2 separate regions of the Homo sapiens genome follow, and region 1 is linked to region 2. The links come from fine-mapping of genetic effects on gene expression. A gene starts in region 2. The other region holds a variant in brackets. All regions are shown on one strand. Distances are between the middles of the regions.

Region 1 (8,345 bases), 23 kb before region 2:
TTTGTGATTCCTGTAAAACATCTAATTCAAGATGTTAATGAGCCATTTAGATCTGGATTTTAAGCTTAAAGAAGAGATTTTAGCTAAATTTAATAATTTTAAAGTTATGAATTTGGAGGTTATACACAGATAGATGTTATTAAAGGCATATGGATTAATGAGATTAACTAATAATAATTATTACTATAATGATAAGTAGCACTTTTTGAGCACCTTCTATGTGCCAGGCACTTTTCTAAGGCCTTACATGTATCAGATATTTAATTTTCCCAACAAGGCTACGAAGAGGGTACAATTATTACCCTTATTTTTTTAGATGATGAAACTGAGACACACAGAAGCTAAGTCACTTGCCCAAAGTCACACAGCTAGTAAATGGAGGAGCTGGGTTTCAAAACCAGGCAATGTGGCTCCAGATGGTAAAGTAAGAAGGTTCAGACTCAGACAACATTTAGAGGCCTGGTAGAAAAGGAGGAGCTGGAAAAAGAGCCTGATAAAAAATTCCAGAAAATAGGAGGTAATCAGGAGAGTGAGGTATCATAGAAACCAGGAAATGGCAAAGGAGGGATCTTGGCTGTGTTTGATACTGGTGAGGTCAGGAAGAATGAGGACTGAAAAGTAAACAAAAAGTATAGAATCATGGTGTGGAATAGTCCAAATGATTAGTTATAACTTCTAAAATACATGAATAATATTTATAAAGAATCTGCATTTTTGGAAATAAAAATGCTTAGAAGTCTTTTTTGAGATTGTTTTCAAAGACTGTAGCATGATATATTTCTGTTGGTCTATTATGCTTTAACCACCGCTTCCTATCAGGAACTATTATAATGGTGTTAAAAAGATAACTATCTTCCATTTATTTTGAACTTTTTTCTTGAAGAAAAGCAAAACATCTTCAGGAATCACTTAGTTGCCTGTAACACCCAAGCTCATATTTATTTAGGAACTCATTTCCTGTGTGGACTGTTTGGGCTGTTGGCCTCCTTCTTTCAACTGCTAATAACTTTTTGCCTCTTTCTCTTGCCTAAACCTCTATAGAGGAAACACGGAAGCAGGAACTGAGAAAACCCAGTAAATCTCTTTATCTATTAGTAATTCTGATGAAACAAGAAAGAGGTCAACATAATGACTAAAATGAAGTTAGGTATAATCTGTGGGCATTACCTATCGCCTTCCTGTTACCCCCCTACCATGAATCACTGAGGATTGAAGAAACAGTCAACAAATTATGTATGGACTTAAGCGTAAAGAGTTTTGAAATTCTCTCTTTCTCTCACTCCCTGCCACCCCAGTACACACATACCCATCAGAGATATGTACATGAAATGATGTTACTCAAATAACAGTGCTAATGGTTCTTACCGTTTGCTGTGTAACCTGGTACATACATAGCATGACTCCCTGGAATAGAGTGGGCTGGGGTGCTTATGCTGGGAGAGTGATTGACATGCACTTTCAAGCTATATCTACCATTTGCAGCAAAGGAGAAAAAATACCTCGAGTAAATTCCATCATTTTTTATAACATCAGCACCTGTATATATAAAAAACACAGTGTCAACACTTGTTATTATAGTAGATTACTAATATTTAAGTCATTAAAAATGAGATTTACTCCCCTTATTCTTTCTATATAAGATATATTATCATGCTCTTATCTACTTTTTACATTCTCAGGTGATAAAAAATCCAATGGGTCCATAATTTCTCCCTGTAATTTCTTACCTCAGTAAAATGATTTTCTAAAGGTGAATAAGTTGTACCATGCTAATAAAACATTTAATCATCACCTTTAACATTCTTGTACTTATCATTGAAAATAATACTAGTTTTTTCTAGAAATCAAGCACATTCTTCAGGTTGCTTATAGTCATTGACCCTTTTGAGATATGAATAAAAGCTATTTTGTCCCTAGGAAATAAATATATATGCACATATACACATTTTCATACAGTTTCAAGGGTTTATGAATGCCTTGAAGTCACTTGATTAAGGACCTTTAATAAATAAAAACTTTGGTTAGTTTATAAAATAGTGTGAAATTACTTAATTTCCTCATTAGAGGGTATCTGGAACTGTTTTTCTAGATTCTAGGGGACTTGATGACCTGGAGTTTGACAGAATTTGGTAGCATCTACTGTGCCTTGCTTCAGGGGGCATTCTGAAAGGTTAGCCAGTGATGTACTTCCTTCTTTTTAAATTGATCTTCAGAGAGCAGTTCAATTCCAAGCCAAAATCATGACTCAATGGCAGGAAGGCCTAGACCCCAGGGCAGCAGAGGGAAGTCCAGCTTAGCCCAAGTATAGATCACTTTTGCCATTCAAGTACAGGTGGCCATAGTGGGCAAGCAGCTTGTCCTCTATCCTAGAGGTCAATTCAGTTTTCATACCACACACACAGCCCTGCATACCAGCAGTGTATCATTGCTAAAGTGTCCCCAGAATCTCCCTCTTCCCCACTGCAAAGGCAGGGCTCCTTAACATAAGAAAAGCAGGAGTATATTTAAATGAAATAAAAAGTGCTAAACATTTTATTATCAAGATAGATTTAGAACTCTTTTTTGTCTGTTGTAAGAAATCAAATCTTGGTATTTAGTGATTTAATGATTAATAAGGTTTATCTTTGTTGAGAAATTACAAAGGAAAATCTCTCCATATTAAAGTCACCACTGCCACCTCTTTTAATAACTGAGGCAGAAAGAAATGGGGAAAGAACATTGGCTTGGGAGACAGAGGAATTAATTTGAAGGCCTGCATCTGTCACTTAGTAGCTATGAGGCTTCATGTCTCTGAGCCTCAGTTTTCTCATCTATAAAATGGAGATAACTTATCTTGCAGGGTTGTTGTGATGATTATTTGAGAGTATGCATGAAAAAGTACATTTTAAATTGTAAATCATTTCAGAGGTATAAGTTTTATTACAGTTCATTTACTGAGCAAATAAATACTGCTTCCATTATAAAAGTATTAAACAACTATGTACATGCGTGTTAAGTATTGATTGGAGGGGAAACAATTTACATTTTGATGCCTGAGCAGTATTTTTTATTGTTCCTTTTTTTAGTGCATACATTTAGATATCAAACAAATAAAATAGTTCCAAGGAATAATATAAAAGCCAATTGAGCTGAATCAGACGATATTCCCTAGGGGAGTAGGCTCTGTTCTCCAGGCTGGCCCACAGGGTGGGGCAAGAGAGAAACATTCTGCAAAAGTACATTTTTGGACCATAAACAAAAAATGAAAGGTGCAACCATGGATAAGCCATCAGAGCATGAGAAGTTCATTTGGATCCAATCCAACAGGCAAAACAAGAAGACTTCTCTGGTATCCCCCAGTGGTGGACTTGAACCAAAACCCTTTGAATGAACTTTTGTTTTCCTGCACATCATACATGATTGCCATGGCAAGATACTGATGGGCTACCAAACTTAAGACTCTTGAAAAAAGATTAACTTTGAAACAACAGGGCAAAAGAATATAATTTTGTTAGCAGATCAAACACTTCGGGCTGCCAAGAGGCAGGTCTACTGCCATTCTAAGAATGTAATTTAGGAAAATAACCAAATAGGAAAGATGGAACAACAAAGGAATTTGTTTTTCAAAGGATCCCAAGTGCTGCTGTTTACCTGGCTGGATGCTATACCATCTATAATGTATGATGACGAGGCTCTGAATGCTGTATGTGCAGAATGAGAACTTTTCTCTATTCTGATTCCACTAGGCTTGCAGGCTGGGTCTTCTTGGGACCAAATTACACACGTAAAAGGCATTGGCTGTGCTAGAACTGAGCTGTGCCCTCTCTTCAACCCAGCCTCTTGGGTCTAGGGTCATCTTATAGGTCACAAGTTCAGTTTCCAATTTTTTCTTCATAACTGGGGTCCAAAGGGAAAAAGTGGGTTCGCTGTCACTGCACCTCCCTTCTGATTTTCATTTGCTATTTTAACAGTCCAATCTGATTACTTCAGTGAATAATAAAGCTAGTGACTCTTAGAGGAATATAAGTATGTCATAAGGACATAGAAGCCTGCTCCTGTATGACCTCAGCAAGTGGAAGCCAGGACCAAGGTGTCCAGCGGCTGCCTCCCACCCTTTGCTCAAACATAGACACTATGAGGAGTCTCACAAGGACTCTCTTTTTCCATGTTAACCTGTAGCTATTCAGTATATCAGTGACTCTATAAGAATTTGAGAATATTGTAAGATTAAAAAAAAATTGAACTCAAGGAATCTTACAGATAAGCTTAATATTGATACTACCGCATCATATCACAACAGCTGTTGAGAAGATGATAAAATGTCATGACATTCCTTGTTACCTGCTCCATCATCAAGGAGTCTCAGCGTAACAGGATCTCCAGTCTCTGGCTCAACTGTGGCAGTGACAGTGGCATTAAGAATGGGATAAAATCCCTGTTTCACATTGGCATAAATCATCACAGGATGAGGAAAATGGAGGCTGTCTCTTTCCACAAAGGCTTCCACAGTGGCTGGGGGCACAGCTGAGTTGGAGGC[G/A]CGAGAGGTCACTGTCACTTTCAGGGCTTGCAGAGAATGATGGGTATTGTTCAGGGTGTAAGTCCAGTGCCCAGGCTGTAAAACAAGTCTTATTGTTTTGGAAAGTGTGAAAAAAAAATCAACCCTAATTTTAAAGCATACATCAAAACTTCTGGAGAATTTTGCTCTTGTTTTGTTGATGTTGCACTTTTTAAAATACTACAAAAAGATGCCAGGAAAAGTAGCATTGGTTAAGGGATGAATAAATTTGTATTTACATGGCTTTCATAGCATAAGTCACCTTTATTTCTAGATAATTCTTTAGGGAATTACACCTCGAATTTATTTGGAGTGAGGGAGGATACATCTTGATTCCCATTTTTAGAACATAACAATAATAGTGTCCAGCTTCAAAGTACTTTACAGATATTAATCTGAGCCCCTTCCCCAAAAAGGCGTTTAAATGTTTTTCATTTCTTTTCATAACTGAGAAAATTACATCAAATTAATTGGACCATTATAATTTATGTGGACACCGTGGACTAAAAAGGCAACAACATCCTTCTTTCACTCCACTTCCCAAAAACTCCACACTCAGAAATCTCAATCAACAAAAAACACATACACTACTAGGGACCAAGAAAAGGACCTACTATTTTTAATAGGTCAGGATTATACAATATCTAATTTGGGTAATTTATAGAAATACTGCTAAACACTACTCTTGCCTATCTGCCTGGGAAAAACCTACAAAAGAAAATCTGAAAGAAAAAGACTAAAATTACAATATAGCAGAAATTCGTCCTTTTGATTAAGCTATACATATATTGCTTTTCCCTGACTTCTGCTGCTGCTCCTTATCAAACCCCCAGAAGTAACAAGTGAAACACAACAAAGCAGAAGGAAGAACAGAAAAGCAAGGGGTTGAAGCGTAACTCAGGGTGGAGAGTTCAGATGCACCACACCCTAGCCATCTTTCTTCATTGGGATTCATGAGCTTCACTATTTTCCATTAAGTTATGATTCAAGGACTATGTTTTTTTGTTTTTGTTTTTTGAATCATAACATTAGTGACAGATGCATGGCAGGAACTTCCACATCAAAAAGTTCTCTGAGTGTAATAAATGTTTTGATACAGGGCATCTAATCCAGACCAAGAGGTCAGGCAAGGGGAGCAAGAAGTAGGTAAAGTGTCCCTGGCCCTTATACACAGGTGTGAAAAGAACATGATGAATTTGGAGAAAAGTTCAATAGGAGCAGAGCATCGAAGAAGTTAAGAGAGAAGCTTGGGTAGAAGCCAAAACATGAAGGGTCTGGTATGTAAGATTTACCACTTGGGCCTGGTGACAGAGCGAGACTCCATCAAAAAAAAAAAAAAAAAAAAAAAGTTCCCACAGCTCACCACTACAGAAGCAGAGAAGACAACTATGCAGAAAACAGAGTTGGTGGCAGTCAGGAGGAATGCAGCTGGTCTGTTGGACCCCTACTGGATTGGGGGAGTGCAGAAGACACTGGTGAAATCCTCTATACTGAAGACCTGCAGTTGGGAGCAGGGGGAGTCCATGGGTCTGCTGATTTTTTTTCCCTATTTAGTACTAATGTGTGTGTGATCTTTGTTTTACAAAATACCTTTTGGGTTTTCTGCATATTTTAAAATTTTTGTACAGTTTTGAATTCTATAGATCGTCTTGGAAGGATACTGTGTGATGAGCCAGGCACACAGTAATTGGAGACTTTTAATGTGTGTAATATTTCATAGATTGCATGCTATTAATCGTCTGTGAGGGTAGTATTTTTTGTTTTATTATAAGTTTCCCTCATTTTTTTATAAATTAAAAGATGGTTGGTATTAGGAATTTCAAATGAATGCAGAAAATCTTACATGCTCTGTACTATTAATATTATAACAAAGACGATCCAAGTCCAAAATCTGACCAATAAAGCAACCATTTTATCAAGATAGAGGATTCTACCATGGGAGAGGGGATTCTTCCCTCCTGAAGTTTGTGTGTCCAATCCCCTTAAAAAAAATGAATAGTTGTCTTTTCTTGTCATATTAATACTCGAAAGTCCATGGTGATATTAATGAAAGTACACTTTATTGTTGCCTTTGACCTTATGGCCAAGGCAATAAATCAGAAACAAAAATAGTGCCAATGTGTCAAAATCTACAACTGAGAGATTCAGCCTCCCATCTGGAATAAATGCGAATCTTCTAAGCTAAAAAAAAAAAAAAAAAAAAAAAAAGGTTAACACTTGGATTTTATTCTGAAACCACCAAGGAGGTTTTGAACAAAAGACAGACTGATTTGTGCTTCAGAAGGATCGCTTTTATAGAGGTAAAGAATGGACTGGAGGGATGGCAGTTCAGAGTCAAGAAGGCTAGTTAAGGGGCTGTCAAGAAGGTGGTGGGAGCGGTGGCTCATGCCTGCAATCCCAGCACTTCAGGAGGCAGAGGCAGGCAGATCACTTGAGGTCAGGAGTTTGAGAACAGCCTGGCCAACATGGTGAAACCTCATCTCTACCAAAAAATACAAAAATTAGCCAGGCATGGTGGCAAGTGCCTGTAGTCCCAGCTACTCGGGAGGCTGAGGCAGGAGAATCGCTTGAACCTGGGAGGTGAAGGTTGCAGTGAGCTGAGATGGTGCCACTGCACTCCCGCCTGGGTGACAGAGCGAGACTCCATCTCAACAACAACAACAACAACAACAACAACAACAACAAAAGTGGGGGTGGGGCAGCATGTGAGGAGGCACTGAATTCAGGCAGTGCAAGAGTGAATCTGATCAACTTACAGTTCTCCTTAGAACCATCAGTGGTTCCCTTTCACTTTCAGGATTCAAGCCCCTGTTCACTTTACTGTTGTGCAAAGCCCTTGCTAATACAGCTCCTGTTTACCTGTCTAGCCTCACTACTCCCCTCTCCTTCCTTTGCCTACATCCCTAACTTATAGATTACCCTACTCTATTGAACTACTCTAGTTCTATGAACAGCCATGTTCTTTTTATCTGAGTCTTTCTATATGCTGTTTCCTCTGCCCACAATATCATACCCACCTCTGGCCTGTTATTCCTTATATTTCCATTTTGATGTCTTTGCTTCCAGGAAGCATTCTTCCTTCCACCCTCTTGTATGTTCTGATAGTACCCTGTTCATGCTCTTACCATGGCATTTTATTGTAAAGTACCTGGAACAAAACCCAGCACACCCAGTAGATGCTAAAAACCACATGCATTGCATGTATTCATATTATAAATTCTAAGTAGAGATTTTTTTCTAAGCATATAGAAAAGTGTGTTTGTATGGATTATGTAAAGAAATATGTAGGCTAGAAAAACATTAATTGTAATACTAGTGGAAATACTAATTTTCAGTGTTGAAGTATTTGGTGTCTAATATATAAAACTGGGAATATACCTTAGTTATTCCTCTTAAATTTTTAATATTCACAAAATGGCCTCATAAATTTAAAGTAAACTTTTGATATATTAAAACAAGATTTTCTTTACACAATGCATTTAATCATGTGATTCAGCTGAAAATCATAAACTTGGTTGAACGTTGTCCTTAGGAACAAACTCACAACACCTACCTTAGCTGTTCCTGGAATCCAAAGACTAGCTGTCCGAAAAGTTAGATTGGTGATAAAATTATTTGTGTAGTATTTTCGTCCATCAGGATCAAATAATATAATCTCAGGAGGACCACTGGCCTGCCACGTAACTAGAAACATAGTGTCGTTGCCCACAGTATTATCCACAGTCACTGTGTTTTTCAATTGATGGTGAGGTTTGACATTTTCACCTGTACTTTCAAGCTGTTAAAGAGAAGATATATATGAGAGTTTCTG
Region 2 (8,345 bases):
TCTCCTTCATTGATCAGAGGAAGCCAGATTAATCTTAAAACACTGCTTTGATGGAGTCACTCCTGTGCTTAGAAACCTTGAGTGGTGACTTGAAAATGTGGCCATTTTAGTGCATCACCTGGCCCTCATGTATGTTTCAACGTTTTCTCCCACTGCCCACAGTCTCCCTGCACCATCATCAGGGTCTCTGTCTCTCCTATATGCCTTTAATTTTTCTGCTGCCACAGTTTTCTTCATAGTCTTCCCACTATTTTCTCCCTTCTTTCCATTTATCAAAATGATGTTCAATCTTGAAGACCTTTTCCTTTGTGAGGACATTTCTGACCACCCTTGACTCTAAATGACGTTTCCTTGATTGAATTCTTATAGCACTCCTCTCTGGGCCACTAATCTGGTGCTAAACTCTTTCGAGTTCACTTTAGCCCCTCATCTTTGCATGGGCATATGACCTATCTCCCCCTTTGAGTGGTAAGTCCTTGACAAGTTTCAGGTTTTGTGAGTGAGTCCCTTTCAGCACCAAGCACAGAATATTATAAGTAGTATTGTCCAATGGCTATTGTTTTATTGGTCCCACTTACCTCGTGATCCGTAGCCAGCTGTTAAGTTATCATTCAGTAGGAAATTAGGTGTGAAATGAATGTATTTTCCCTCTTTTCCACACCCTCTGTATTGTAGGGTGTATGGATCATCTCCATGTGCCCCATACCAGTCAGTCACTATGACATTTGCCTAAATTAAAAGAAATGCCTTGTAATACTTTCTCAGCTCTGTTGTTGGTGACATAAATGTATACATTCATTAAAGCACTTTGAACTGTACACTTAAGATGTGTGCATTTTATTGTATGTAATTATAACCCAATTTAAAAACAAAATTGAAGAAAAACACCTTGTGGATGGAGTTTAAAATGCACCCACAGCTACATATCAATAAAATCACTTGGGATTTCCAAAAAGGTCTATGTTATGAAAGCTTAGCAAATTTTTATGGAACCTAATTACTTCCATTTGATCTTTCCACATTCCAGATTAAAATATTCTCAAAAGTCAATCCTGTAAAAGTCTGATATAACAAAACACTATAAAATGCAATTAAAATATTTGAAGAAATTCTAAAAGCATTTATACATCGTTCAGAACCATTCAGAAGGCTGTAAAATGTTACAGCCTTTTGTGAACAACTTTCTGTGGGTTATTTTATTGGTGTAAGACAATAGAACATTATTTCTTTGAAAATTTGTCCTTTCTTTCCTGTAACCAATTAGATCAGCAAAACGATCATTCCAATGAAGTTATATTTCATCTTATGGCCTGACCATTTCCATTACTGTTGCTAAAACAGATTTTAAGTCCAAAACTGAAATATCCACTCATATAACTATCAAGACAAGAAAATGTTATATATAACATTGTTTCTTTTATTTTTGGGAAGAAAGATGACAGATTGTTCTGGATATGCACTTAAAAGTTAAATATGCTGTTAAGTTTTTTTAAAAGCTGATTTTAGAAAAATAGATCTAATACGATCCAATATACACAATTATCACTCTATGTACAATATGTATATGTGTTTTGTGTGTGTGTGTGTGTGTGTGTGTGTATGTATGTGTGTCCATCTGTGTCTGTGTGTGTGCCACTGAGAAGAAGAGGACAATACAATTTTTCATTTTTATTTTCCATGTTTCTACATTATTTAATTTTTTTCAATGAGTATAAATTACTTTTATAATAATTAACATTTATTTTTAGAAAGATAAGAATTCAAGCCAAGGTCATTACAAGGAAGTACCTACAAAAAAGGCTGAAGAGGTCACACTCTTGGATAGTCCTCACTTGGGTAAAACCTCATTCCTATGTCTGAAAATTTGTCCTGAGGCCAAAAGGAAAGAGTGCCCTTCATGGAATGGAATACTCAGAGGCTGTTTGGGGTTACTTTATACCTTATAGACCACAGTAATTCAGCTCTTATCTACTTTTCCTAACCCTTTCCCCCTTCCATGATTCCTACCTACATCTCATTGTAGACTTGGAAGGACAGGAACTACCTTGCTGGTCCTTGGGTTCTCTGAAGTGCCTAGCGTGGTCCCGTACATAATGATCATTCACTGTTTGCTTAATTGACATTCTGAGGTTAAAGAATTGGTATCCAACAGATAAATGAACAGCATCCAGGGACGATTGTTTCCTTTGGTCTTTCCGTTCACTCATATTTTCACTTTTGCTTTACTTATTTCTCTCCCCTCCATTAGGATCAAGTGTTACCTATGGCAACCTGGTTTTGGTGTTTGTTGTCTCCAATACTTCTTAGTTCTATTGAAGGCCCAATAGATGCATTAAATCTCTATTGACAGCTAGAGACAACAAAGCTTAGTGCAAAAAGCATGGGTTTTGGAGGCAAATAGACATTCAAATTATGGCTCTGTAATTTACTAGCTGTTAGATTTGGGACAAAGTCCATACCTTATTCAAGCCCCAGTGTTTTAATTTGTGATCACAGAAACTAATTTTAAGTTATGTGAGAATTAAATAATATATGTAAAATGCCTGGCACTTAGTTGGAGCTTAAACACTAACTCTTCCCAGCTTACCCCAGTTCCCCCACCTATCCTATCTTCATGTGCAAGCATTCTCAAATGCTTTCATCTGGTCATAGGTCAAATGCTTTTCACAGGCTCTTTAACTTCTTCAGGACATTGGGGTACCTATCTGGATTGCTATACCATTCAATTTCTGACAGAGTAGCTTTGAAGGAGAGCTAAGAATGAAACAGACTTAGGAAATTTCATACTGAGGGTCAGAAATAAGGAAAGGGGAAAGCTGTACCACATGTTTGAGTCATTCTGTTAGAGATGTAGTTACAATCTCAAACCCACTCCATTGCTGAAACCCTGAGATAAGTTGCCAATGCCTCTACTTCTGGCCCTTCTGGTAGCTGCAATGGACTCTTGTTCACAGTTGACTTCAAACAGTGATTTACCATTTATATTATTTATCATTTATTTATAGTGTGCACACTAGTATGTACCAGACATCATCATGGGTGCTTAATCATGATCTGCAACTTATGAGAGCCTTTCAAGGTGAAGTTCCTCTATAGGTGGAAAAAAAAAGGTAGCCATTCCCCTACTCATCCACATCCCCACATCCTTCCTCCCTTCCTTCTAATCTCCTTATTCCCCTAAAACAATATTCTGGACTTGAGCTAATGTGAAATTCTGATAATCTACACCATGGCATAAGATGGCAGTCATATTTTTATATGCATGGTGGTTTATATTTCTGTCTGGACATGCATGTTTATTGCTCCTGACAGGATGGTAAATGGGTATAGTCATAATTGGAACTGTTCCCTTTGCAGCTCATCCTCAGTAGGATAAAACTAGTTCTTGATCCTCAACCAAACTTTTCAGAAAGTACTCCATAAGTTACAAAATAAAGAGATCTTCTGAGAAACTACTTAGGCTATGGCATTTGACTCATTTTTTACTGCACAATTTGCATTCATTTATTCTCATATATTTTGTTGATAACATTCTGCCCATTAATATTATTTGCATTGTTAATACTGATGATTTGTTTTTACTTAACTTCTCACTTTTATCGTTTGAGCACAGTATATTTTGGTGTTTTTTTTCCCCTTGAGATCATTGAATGAAATCCTGGATTCTTACCTTTTCATATGATTCTTGTTTTATTTTGCTGTTATTATTAGCTTTCCATGTGGCAGGTATTAAAATCTTTATATTTCTGAAAAATACTCTTCTCTTGGTAGCATTAAATAGGTAAAATGAAGCTTCAGTTATCATTTCCTACAGCCAGACAAAAGAAAAACTTACTTTACCACTTGTAAATCCTGTATGTTTTGGTTTTCTGGTATGCTTAAACAGTAATAAAAGACAATGAAATATTTTGAAGAGACCCATTTCTTTTAGAGAAAGCCCTAGACTTTGGGAAAACATAGGAGCAAATTTTTAAAAAAACTTTAAATGATTATATGGAAGATTTTAGGACACTAATTATATGTCTGTGCTTGCCTTCATAGTTTTCCCAATTTTGAGAAAGGCTTTTAAGCTTTTGTGGAACAAATCCTTTTCATGTCACACCTGTGGGCACATTCAAGACCACACCTTATGATGCTACTGATTTCACTAAAGCAATACTAAATGGAGGCTCTTACATCATAGAGCTATGATCCTCCCTTGCCATATTAAAGTAAAAATAGTCAATTATGTTACAGCACATTCAAGTGAAAAGAAATAATTTTGCTTTTTGGCCCACCGTGCAGACTCTCACCCTTTCTGCCTGAGAATTCTCACCCTCAGGATGGAATCTAGCAATATGATTTTAACAAGCATGCTCATTATCATGCTTATTCATCAGTTAAATATTCAATCTTTGTTGCCACAATGGGTTGTTATTTTTCTAAGTTGCTACCCCAAAAACAGTCATGTAGGAAAACAAAAGAGCTGAAATTAGTAGCAACCAACAATAACAAAATAGAGGGCTAGATCAACACTCTGTGAGCTGAGACTACACAGAATTAGATGAACAAACTGGCTTAGTTAGCCATAATCATAACGTTGTGGCGCTATCTTTTAAAAATGCTGTTCTCTGTATTACTCAAATACAAACCAGGCAGGGTAGTTAGCTTCTAAATAAGGCTACAGGTCTGATCAAATGGGATGCTAGTATCAATTTCATAATTTCCACTCACCTTAATGTTTGAGATGAGGTTCTGATTCTCAGGTACCTGAGGATTAATTGCAATGAGCAATCCATTATACCCATTGTCTTGAAGCTGTACTCCAGCTCCCAGGAATGGGAGTTCTGAACTTAAGGCAACCAGGAGAGTCACAAACTTCAGGTTGCAAATAGGACCTGCAATGCTCCTTTGGGTCATGTTGTAGAGAAGCCTCCAGTTCACTCACACTGAGCCTGCTGCATACATTGTGTCAGGTTTTCAATATGGATGCAGATGGTTTCTTCCTGAACTTGCAAGGTTTTAGAACACAAGATGAAGGAGGTGTCTTCTTTGAAAAGTCTGGGGTGGATCCATCTGGGACCTGCCTCTACAAGTCCTTTTCCTCCAGGCAATGCTACACTTGCCTGTTCTGTGGCTGAGCTGCCTCCTGAATCATGGTTGGGCAAGAAACATTCTGCCCTTCATTCATTTTATAACTTTTCAGAAAGAAGAGGGAAATAAGACCAAAGGAGCTTAAAAGCAGGAAATATGGGCTGGAAATCAGTATATCTGGACTGTTCAATCCACTTGCAGTAGAAACACAGAAGTCTATAGTGATTTTCCTCTCCTCATTTTTCATAACCTCCTCCATCAGTTGGCACAAGTACTTTCTACTGCCCTCAAGTCATTTTTCATTTGTTGCAAGATTTCCTTGCCTGTTTATTTTGAAGATTTAGAAATCCATTCTGCAGCCCAGTCCCTACAGCCCTTGGGTCAGATAGTCTGGGCAAGCTCTCAGCTGATGGCTGGAGGTCAGATATCAGATATCCCCCAGAGAGGGCCAACTGCCAGGAACTTGGGTGCCTGTGCAGCCCTTTCCCTCTGGCCTTGCTACCTTTTCTCTCTGCCTCAGGAAGAAGAATAGATTTCTCCTTCAGCTCTCTCCTAAGGGCAAGGCCCTGCTTCAGTCAACCCTCCATTTCTCCAGGACCAAAAACAGGATCTAATATATAGTAACCATCGCAAATATTTTATGACTGATTCATAATACCTGATATTTACCTCATGCTTTAAAGTTTACAAATGAACTCATTTAAATATCAATACTCTGATGCAGGTATAATTTGTACTTTTCAAATGAAAATAATGAGTCTTGGAAATTCTGATTATGAAAATTAGCCAATGAGAGAAGAAACTAACATTTTTTGAGTGATGGATTTTATTATGCCTATTTTATGGGTGACAGAACTAATGTTCAAAAAAATCTAAGTAACTTGTTCAAGGTTGGGAGTATTATCATCGTACTAGAATGAACCAACTGACTCCAAATTCCACTGTTTTTCAATATATCATGTTCTCTCTTAGTTACTAAATTATCTTAGTAACCTCGTTTCTCCCTCTTCTTTGTGTTTAAGAATGCCGCACAGTGACATCTATTGTAAAACTAAAGAAAAAGTTTTATTCACAGCGTCAGAGGTCCACAGCAAGCAAAACCTGTGACTCTTCCCTGCTGTGGCCCCGTCTCGGAACATTTCTGGGGAGGGGAGTGTAGCATTTAGGAAACGGTCTGTCCCTGCTCTCAACAGGGATTTCACCAACATTGTCTGTTTTCAACATCTTCATGGGCAGTGTGATGTCACTCTTCTTCCCAGCAAGGTTGGAGTCTTCTGAACTTGGGCTTTGATATTGCACTGCAATGTTGACAGATGTTGAGGGAATTTTTTTCCCCTTGCTGTCTTGCTTGAATCATTTTCTCATGCTTCTTCTCACCTGCTTTTCCTTCAAATTCCAGCTGTGTCCTGGAAGCCTGGCCTGAGCTCCATAACTAAGTCAAATTCCCTTCTTTCATGCTTCCATAGCATCAGATAACTCACCTTTGCAGTATGATCATGGTAACAATGTCAAATTTATATTGTATAATTGATTGTCAGCTTCCTGCTGTATGAAGGAAGGGATGGAGTCTGTTTTCATTCAGTACTTCCCCAGCACCTATCTCAGTAAACTCTCTGTTGAATGACTGAATGAATGGAGTCAGGAGAAGTAAATAAAACAAGATAGTGAAGGAGCCCCGGGTTATAGTGTAAAAATTCTTTCCCCCACCCTTGTTTTCTAGAAGGCATCTCCTCTGTTCTAGAGCAGTTTCCCTCTTGCTCCCTCTTGACAGGCAGTGCTTGAGTATGGTGCTCTCCTTGAAGAATGGGATGGCGCTGGTCATTACGTGGCTGCCCAAGGGTCTTACCCTAAAGTTCAAAGGTCAGCTTAGCTGCCTTTTCTCCCAAACTGAATTCCCAGCCCTAGTTTTTTTCTGCTTGTTCACTGTGTCTTCAGAGTAGAAGGCCAGAGGTGTGGCAGCTCCAAAGGCTCTGTCTGTAAATGTGACTCATTGAGCAGAACAATGCACTTCATTTCAAATATCCCTGGCAGTTTATTTTCTTATGCCAACCTCTTGTGATTTTAAGAATACAAATATTCCCATCGATAAACCAATATGCTCAAAAACTAAACTCGTAAGCACACTGCAAGAGCGGCTTTTTGCCAACACTCAGGGAAGTTTTTCATGACACTTGTATAGGTTGTTTGCTATGGGAGGGAGTGATTGAGGACTGATATTCAGCACTCTCTCCACTTGTTTTTATCATTACTATGGTTCCCTTGGGATGTGAGGGTGGAAAATATTGGCTAGAGAGTGCATGCAACTTTATAAAGAACAGCTACAAATGAACAATTTTGTCCAGCTTCACTTGGGTTGAAACCTGAACAAGCTCACTCAGGCTTTGCTTAGCCCGGGTTGAGAGTCTAGGCATGATATCTACTCTTATCTATCTGATTTTTTTTAAACGTCTAATTCAGAGCCCTTTTTGTTATCAGCAACCAGGCCTGGGACCGGGCCAGCTGAAGGTCTCTTTTTACTGCCTTCTTCTTTCATCAGGCTGACCTTACAGCCTGAAAAGGTGGAGAAAATGAAATTGAGTAAAGGAATTAGAAATTATACTGAGCACAGCATCTTTTTGTGAAGTGTGACTTCGTCAATAAAGTGAACTTTTTATCCTTTCATTAAACAAAAATTAACTGGTCATAGCCATAGATTTTAGATTTTATAATATCTGAGAAAGGAAATATACCTAAAGGAAAAGAAAGGAGGAATACAGTTTTTAAGTGTTTATTTCAATGTTATATAAACTCTAGGAATCTGCTTTGCTTTTATTCTGCTTTCAAGAAAATAAGAGTTATTCAATTTCAGTAACTGAAGAATCTAAAGCACATCTTTGTTCATTGTCTGACTCTGTAGTTCAACCTGGCCCCAGAAGGGCCTGTCTATTTTTTTCATGGAGTCAGCTGGTATAGACCCACAGTCTAAGTGAATAAAACATCCAATTGGTGTCAGAGAAGTCAGGAGATTTGACATTTTGGGGAAATCAAAGAAAATTTTGGATTAGTTCCTCTCAGGCTTTGGTTTCAACAATCCCATTTAGAAGAGGAAAGTGTAGTACACTGTACGGTTGGGCTACACAGCTCATGGGCCACGTTAGTTTATGTAATCCCTGTGAAATAAATCAGAAAAGAAGAGAGACAAATTGTCAAGACTAAGAATTTAAACAAAACACAGTTTGCCAAGGGCCCAGATGGTACATTTCCTACCTCCTTTATCCAATTTCCTTCAAATT

Direction of the effects. Alleles are on the strand shown, and positions count from the first base shown. SD is a standard deviation of normalised expression in the study named.
With allele A in place of G in region 1, the expression in spinal cord of the gene that starts at base 4,976 in region 2 is lower (large effect, 0.83 SD a copy in GTEx).

Evidence for each region.
Region 1: its variant is fine-mapped to the expression of CLCA2 in spinal cord (GTEx, PIP above 0.99).

What each region holds. Positions count from the first base shown.
Region 1 is chr1:86,443,754-86,452,098 of GRCh38, reverse strand. CLCA2 (chloride channel accessory 2) reads right to left here. Exons shown (of 14, transcript NM_006536.7): 10 at 8,088-8,312; 11 at 4,321-4,591; 12 at 1,366-1,536. Among named protein-coding and RNA genes, the nearest start is that of CLCA1, 21 kb to the left of the region's middle. The variant G/A (reference allele first, on the strand shown) is at 4,517.
Region 2 is chr1:86,420,802-86,429,146 of GRCh38, reverse strand. It overlaps CLCA2 (chloride channel accessory 2), which reads right to left and starts at 4,976. Exons shown (of 14, transcript NM_006536.7): 1 at 4,714-4,976; 2 at 3,671-3,808; 3 at 579-729. The coding sequence starts at 4,899.